2 linked regions of the Homo sapiens genome follow. The gene in region 1 interacts genetically with each later gene. Each region holds a gene or a part of one and is shown in the gene's direction. Other genes may lie near its edges.

What was found.
Region 2: changes in RALB (region 1) and IRF3 together harm fitness less than expected from each alone (positive genetic interaction), as found in Homo sapiens cells (one study listed by BioGRID).

Annotation. Positions count from the first base shown.
Region 1 is NC_000002.12:120,250,877-120,254,782, forward strand, and holds the start of RALB (ras-related protein Ral-B), read left to right. Parts: upstream 1-1,975; 5' UTR 1,976-2,104; intron 2,105-2,181; exon of another isoform or gene 2,182-2,855; intron 2,856-3,906. UniProt on the Homo sapiens protein: Multifunctional GTPase involved in a variety of cellular processes including gene expression, cell migration, cell proliferation, oncogenic transformation and membrane trafficking.
Region 2 is NC_000019.10:49,664,265-49,668,170, reverse strand, and holds the start of IRF3 (interferon regulatory factor 3), read left to right. Parts: upstream 1-2,347; 5' UTR 2,348-2,540; exon of another isoform or gene 2,541-3,029; intron 3,030-3,324; 5' UTR 3,325-3,332; coding exon 3,333-3,497; exon of another isoform or gene 3,498-3,668; coding exon of another isoform or gene 3,669-3,728; exon of another isoform or gene 3,729-3,906. Other genes in the region: BCL2L12 (bcl-2-like protein 12), read right to left, coding at 1,010-1,152, 1,372-1,478.

The DNA of each region.
Region 1 (3,906 bases):
TATACTGCACAGCTCAGGGTCTGGCATGTCCAGGATCTGAATAGATGATCCTGCTGGAGGAGTCCCAGTAGGACCCCTCCGAGTTCTAGGCAGGCAGAGAATGAAAGCAGCATTTCTCAGAAAGCCCTGTGCATCCTGTTACCAATGCAAAGGAATGGCACTTCAGCACCCCAGAAAAGGTGGGGAAACCTCCTGCATCTGCTGTGGGTCCTAGGGGATGGGGGGCAGGTGGGAACAGTAGAATCCTGGCCTGTGGCCTGATTTCTGACCCTGTTCCCTCAACTATCATACCCTTTTCACTTGGGTAGGCTGCTGCAGCTGCTCTCCTCTCTATACTTGCATTTGACAAAGGGTACCACCACAGCAGGCCCTTTCCACCAGGCTGCACGCGGTCACACTTGATACAGATGGGCTTTGGGAGATAAGGCTGTACCAGATTGGTGATCACACACTTGACTGTACATCGTGGCCTCTGGTGGCAATCACTAATGTAAGCTCACATTCCTGAGGCACTCACCAAGTTCCTAGCACTGTACTGAGAGCTCTATGTGGACTTGCATGTACATCTTCTTACCTATAGCATGGAGGTGCTGCTATTGGGCAGCTGGTGAAACTAAAGCCCACAGAAGTAGTTTCCTAATTAAGTAACTGCTAGTCACAAGGTAGAGCCCTCCTTTAATCCTATGCTTCCAGACTCCAAACCTGTGCACTTAACTGTTACTCCGTAAGAAAAGGTTTGGGTCTGATTCCTCTTCTAGGTTATAAATACTAGGGAGCTTCCTCTTTGAGAAGCCTCCTACCCCATCTCCTTACTGTACCTAGCAAAGTGTCTGTCATACGATTAGCACTCAATAAAAGTTTTAAATGTGAATGAGAATGGTAAAAACAGAATACTTAGTAGGCTAACACTAGGATATTCTTCTGATTGCACTTTTTTGTTAAGTTGGTCACTTAAGACTAAGGTAAAGCTTCTGTGCTTTTTGATATAGATGCTGATGGAGGGACTGGATCTGGTAGATACATAGCAATCTAATCATGGCCCAAAGCCTCCAATATAGTATACACATGCATCCTAACTTACAATGATCAACAATGAAAGAATTAATTACACTGTGCTAGCAGCCATGGATATCACATTGCATAAGAGATAGTTCCCTCCCTTAGAGATAAGAGGCAGACGTTTAAACTGTCAGTTGCGATGGCTTGTGACTCTCATGAGGTCTGCGTAGGGGTCAGCACGGTCACAAAACCTGTGGAGGAGGAGGTGGTTAGGAAGGAAAATCCACCGAGATGAAGCTGTACTGGATACAAAATCACACGTTCCTGGGCTTTGGCAGGGAGCTTGCCCACTGCACTTCCTGCCTCGAGGCTATGGCTGGGGTGGGATTCTGGCCCTTGTAGGCGGCCTGGGTCCAGTCTCCGCCATGCACTCACTAACTCCATTACTGCTAATGGGATGTCATCAGCGAAGCGAGTGGTGGCGGCAGGTGGAGTCCCGCCCCAAGACCCCCGGGCGGCATCCCCATCGCCGCGCTCCAGCACTCTTCGCCACCTCGTAATTTTCTTCTGTTTCTGTATGATCAGGTCTGTCCTTCGCTTTTGCTTTCCATTACTTCGTCCTAGCCCTGGCCTGAATCCCACAACTGGCGCCCCACCTTGTGCACCCGCACCCGCCCTCAATACCGGCGGGCAGCTCCTCCACTGCCGCAGGGTTACCAGCTGCGTGTCCGAGGGGCAGAGAGAGAAACAGAGGGGGACGGGGCAGGCGCGCTGGGCCCGCCCCCCCGTGCCTGGGGCAGCTTCTCATTGGTGAAACCTCCTCCCCGGCCGCCCGCTGCTTGGAAAATCAGCCTCGGATTGGCTGACAGCCCCCCGACGGGCGTGGCTTCCGAGGAGAGGGCAAGAACGGAAGCGAGGGCGCGCTCTCGAGAGGAGGGGTTGCCTAGGCGACGCCGGAGGCGCGCTCGGGGGGTGGGAAAGCGAGCCCGGCAGCTCAATGACAAATCGGTGGAGGACGGCTGGGGTCCGGCCCCGGGAGGGGGCGGGGCGCGTTTAAGAGCTGCGGGCCGGGTGCGGACGGCGGAGGCGGCGGGACTGGTCCCTGGTAAGGGCGCGGCGCCCGCGGGCCCCGGGCGGGGTGGGGCGCGGGCTGGGGAGTGGGGTACGCCGCACGCCCGCAGCCTCTTGCTCCCTCCGTGCCGGGCTGTGGCCGGGCGGCGGCAGGACATGTCGCGCCCCGAGGCCGGCGGAGGGCGACGCCCCGGCAGCGGCCCCGCTCCGCTCCGGGAGGACTCCCTGGGGGAGTCTCGGCTTCCTGGGCTGCCTGGGGCTGAGGAAGTGGGGGCGGCCTCCGCCTCTCCCTTGTAGCCGCGGTTCCTTCCCTATCCCGCAGATGGCTCTGCTTCCACTTCCTGCCGCGGGCCTCCCGCTCGGGACCGTCCACTTCCTCAGTCCTCCGGCCGCGGCTTGGGCAGGGTCAGGGCTGGGAAGTGTTGCAAAAACTTAACTGCCCTCGGAACTTGCACGCGCCGTGAACTGGGCGGTGTTCCTAAAGGGCTTCGGTTTGCTGGTTTTGTTTTGGTCCTGTCTTGCAAATGAGCATAAAGTTGTTTCTCCCCCAGCCTCCTCCCCTTTCCTTTCTGATAGGGGCCAGCGGCGAAGGGGCTTCTAAGGGGAAGCGCCTGGACTGGGCATCGCCGTCCCGGTTCTTGCCGCCTGTGGGAGTGTGAGGTTAACCGTGCTCGGTGCAGGGTTGCGGGGCGCGGAGCTTGCTGCGTCCACACTGCTTGTGTGAGCAGTGTCCTCTCTGTGCTCATTTCCAACGAGAAACGTTGGAACTTTGGTGTTCTTATCAGGTGAGTCTTCGGGAGAGAAGTGCTTGTGCCTGGCGGACTGAATGAATTGGCCGTGGAAGAGACTTGGCTGATTGCTCATCTGGGTTACCTGTGACTCATCTTCAGCCCTTGTAGAACAGTGCACTTTCTGCTCTGTCCTGGTTTCCTAACCTCATTTCTTCTGAAGTTTTGGGGATGGATGGTGGGCATGGAGTATCAGAGGGGATAGTGAATCTTTTAGAGGTGTCAATGACTGATGTTCCAAGCAGAGCCATAAGATTGTTGGATGTCAAAGCTCAGAACCGGTCAAGGCTCAGAATGCTCCTTAAACCTGGAGCAATAGAAGCACAGTATCGAAGTTCCCAGAAATGGGCCGACCATGAAAGGTAGCACTGCATATTGGGAAAAACAGGAGGGGTGAGTTTGAAGACCTGGGTTTGATGCAGGTTCTGAGAGTTTACCGGTGTTGTGATGTGGAGCACGATCTTTCCCCCTCTGAGCTCCAGAGTCAGCAACTGTAGAAGGGTGATGATAGTTATCCTAATTGTTAGGATTAAACGAAATAGGAGCGGGGGAGAAGAAGGCCAGGGAGACATATCCTTTGTGCGTGGCTTTAGTTGTCAGCCGGTCTGCTTTATTCTGACCACATCTGGGGCTTTCCTTCCTTGCCCATTCACATTGCTTCCCATTGGAAACAGCACTCTTATCGGAGATCTCAGCCAGATTTCCCTCTGCCCGAGGAATAGAACATTTTCCCAGGATTGTGTGTGGAAAATAGTGTAAGTTATTAGATATCTTTTGGGAACTTGGGACCTAGACCATAAGGATAAACAGGATTTAGAGTCTTCCACGGCATATGAAGAGATTTTGGTAGAAGATGAGGGTAGAAAAGTTCTAAATTCTTGCCTTGACTGAAGATGGCTTGAGATTCCATGAAAAATTTTAAGCCTGAGAATTGAGATAATCCTTTTTTTGTTTGTTTTTGGGGGCAGAGTCTTGCGCTATTTCCCAGGCTGGAGTGGAGTGGTGTGATCACCGCTCACTGCAGCCCCCACCTCCCAGGCTCAGGTGA
Region 2 (3,906 bases), on another chromosome or scaffold:
TGAGCCGAGATCGGGCCATTGCACTCCAGCCTGGGCAACAAGGGCGAAACTCCGTCTCAAAAAAAAAAAAAAAAAAAAGAATGTCAGAGCTGACAGGGTGCGGTGGCTCACGTCTGCAATCTCAACATTTTGGGAGGCCGACGTGGGAGGGTCACTTGAGGCCAGGAGTTTGAGGCCAGCCTGGCCAACGTGGCGAAACCCCGTGTCTACTAAAAGTATAAAAATCAGCTAGTATGCTGGCGTGCACCTGTAATCCCAGTCACTCGGGAGGCTGAGGCACGAGAATCGCTTGAACCCAGGAGGTGGGGATTGCAGTGAGTCGAGATTGCACCCCTGCACTCCAGCCTGGGTGACAGAGCAACAATCTGTCTCCAAAAGACTGTCAGAGCTCAACTAGACCTTGAAGATGATCTCATCCAAGGAAGGCAAACACAAGACATTACTGTTAGTATCCCCTTCCCTCACTCACTACAGACATCACCAATTGATCACAGCACTTCCTCTCCCAAGCTGTGAACCCCTTTTCAAGCTAGCACTCCCAGCAGCCATTACTAGTCTGTCCAGGTTCACACCTATGAGGAAACTTGTGGGTCACCTTGATCAAGTCCAGTGACCTCCTCCCCAATTCCTACTCTGCTATTGGAAAAACAGGGGAGCAGGGAAGAGAAAGCATTTTCCCCAGAGTCACGCAACTAAAACAGCCAGGGAGATGTGATTGAAAACCAGCCCTTCTGCCCCTCTATCAGGGGTATTCCTGGCTACAAAAGTCCTAGGGGCAGGGAAGTAGTTATGGAAGGAAAGAGACAACAACCAGATTGACCAAATGCTCTCTGAAAGCCAACCCACAGAATTGACAGAAATCTAACTGGGGAGGGGAGAGGACAGGACGGTTCTGTCCTGAAGGCTGGTGCTAGAGACTCCACACAGCCACCCCCTAGCTGAGTGATCTTAAACTAGCACCTTATCCCGTGTTCTGCCGGCTTCATAGATGATCATGGAAATCTCTTACCAGGCTCTAAACCATAGCAGGGGCGGATGGGCAGAGAGCAAGGCCGAGGGGACTCAGAGGGGGCTGCTCCTCGCCCCAGGGAGCAGGGAAGACATCTTCGAAGGCGGCTCAGGAAGTCTGTTGGCTCTTCTTGGGCAGGGCTTCTGGAGAGGAGGACTTCAGAGACTGACCCCACCAGAGATCCCCTGCAAGCAGTCTCTTTCCCCAACTCCCTCCCTCCCCCGCTGAGGACCTCTCTCCAAAACCCCAAAGACAGAGAATAGAGCCAGATATAAAGAGAGGAGACAGACTGAGACCAGGAGCAAGAGTTAGGAGGGAGCCTCAAATGCTGGCCCCTGGGGGAGAAGGGCCACTCCTCTTACCTAGGTGGAGTTGGAACAGGAGACCCGGCAGCCTCACCACGCCTAAGGAAGGCAGCTAGGACCCTCAGCGTGTCTTCCCGGAGCCCCAGCTCTTCAGAGCCTGCCATGGAGGCACCTGTGAGAGAGAGGGTTAGGGACTGGACTCCAAGGGTTTAGCAAGAAGTGGAGGCTTGGGGACCAGGACTTGTGAGTCCCAAGGAAGGTGCTGAGGGCCTGGACTCCTGGGTCCTTTGGAGAGTGTGGGTCTGGGGGCCTAGACTCTTGAGTCCTCAGACGAAAAAGCGATCAGGAAAAAGACTCTTCGATCCAAGGAAAGGTGGTGGGGCTGGGTGCCCAGATTCGTGGGTCTAAAGGAGGAGGGAGCTGGGGTCCTGGACTTCTGAGTCTTAGAGAAAAAGGAACTGGAGCCCCAGACCCTTAGGTCTCCCAGGAAGAAGAGGCTTAGCGCCCCAACTCCTGGATTCTATAAGAGGCATATGCCAAACTCCTGAAACCCTTAAAGCATCGGGAACTACCAATCCCAAGAGGTTTCAGGGCAAATCTTCCCCTAGGTCCGCGCTTCTTCGCCGCGCAGCCTGCTGTGAGGTGTAGTTCCAAATCTCCGACCCCTGCTGGAATCTAGAGGACCCTGGACCCTTGGATATCAGAGAAGCGGGACTGGGGTGCCCACCACTGGATCCCGGCCCCCTCCTCTTCCCTCCTCACCCCACCCCTCGTCAACACCCCGCTGACCTGGTCCGGGGCCCCACCGCCGCCTCCTCCACTCAACTTGCGGTCTCCTCCACTGAACTCGTACAAACTTTATTAGTTCAACTTTCCCGCGCCTGCGCACTGGGCCGGGTCGATAACCGGCCCAGCGTAGAAAGGGCGGAACGCTGGGTGCACGCTCAATTTGCATGTGACGCTCCCAGCATGCCTCTGGCCGGAAACCCAAAAAAGGGCATAGGGGCGGGAACAGCCCAGCGGGCCGTCCCATCGGCTTTTGGGTCTGTTACCCAAAGAATGATAAAGTTGGTTTTATTTCAAGAAGTCGATCAAAAAGAAAGCCCCAGCGCTCTAGAGCTCAGCTGACGGGAAAGGGGGTGCGCAGCCTCGAGTTTGAGAGCTACCCGGAGCTCCAAGACAGGGGTGGGTTCCAGCTGCCCGCACGCCCCGACCTTCCATCGTAGGTAACGCGGAAGAGCCCGGGAGAGCGTTGGTGGCGTCCGAGAGCGAGGAGCGGGAAAGAGGATGGGTCTGCACGGAGAGTGGAAAGGCAGGCTGTGTACTCTGGGGAAAGTGGAGCAAGGAAGGAGCTACAGTGGCCGACGCTGGAGGTCGGCTGCAGAAAAACTAGAAAAAGTAGGGAGGAAAGAGGAAAAGAGGAGGCGTCTACACTGAGGGGGTTCTAGAGAGGGAGGGGTGGACTCCGTAGATGGGGGTAGTTCAGTCTCGAAACCTGGGGCGTGCTCTGTCCTGGAGGAGGGAGGCGGGCAGTCGGAGGGGAATTGAATGGAAGTTCTGTGTTGGAAATGTTTTGGGAGATCTTCTGTAGGGGGACTGTGGAAGGGGGTCTACATTGGGGTAAGTGCAGGAGGTAGAGGCTTACACGTGAATCGATTCTGCACTGAAATAACTAGGGAAAGAGGATGCTACCCTGAAAGTGGGGATACTTACTTTCGATGATGTGGGGGAGGGAGGAGGTCTATACTGGCGGAATTGAGGGAGTGGAGGGTCTGCACTGAAGACGCTGGGGAAGGATGTGCCATGGATATGGGAAGGAACCCTAGCTGATTAGAGAGCCTCTCGGGAGGATGGGAGGATGGGAAGAGGAGGTTTCCTGTTTGTACCCCCGAAAATATGGGTGAAGGACCTGTGCCGTGGCCCGTGAGAAGGAGGTCTGGGTGCGGAAACTCCAGGCCAGGTGGGTCCGGGGGAGGCCGGTCGCGCCCAGGAAATGCCCTATACGCGCAGGCCGGACCATGGGAACCCCAAAGCCACGGATCCTGCCCTGGCTGGTGTCGCAGCTGGACCTGGGGCAACTGGAGGGCGTGGCCTGGGTGAACAAGAGCCGCACGCGCTTCCGCATCCCTTGGAAGCACGGCCTACGGCAGGATGCACAGCAGGAGGATTTCGGAATCTTCCAGGTGCGTGCGACGACCTGGGACGCTGGAAACCCGGAGCTGCGCGCTGGGCGGAAAGGACTCCTAGTGGGCCCGGCTGAGAAGGCGGAGGTGGCGCGCGAGGGGCGGGCTCGTGCCAACGCTGGTGGGTGGGGCTAGAACGGGAGGGGCGGGGCTAGCCGGATCCGCTGACTGATGGTGGGGCGCAAGCAGGGTTGGAGCTGCAGGGTTACGGGAATAAAACCGGGAAAGCCGGTTAGTACGCAAAGGAAATGCATCCTGGGGGTTTGGGGCTTTCTAGAGGCCGGGGCTCTTGGTTGTAGGATAGATACTGGGGGATGGTTCTTGAAACATCAGAGGTGAGGCCTGGAGCCCCAAATCTGAGGTTCCTAACTACCGAATTAGTATATGCCAGAGGTGGTAAACAGTGTGA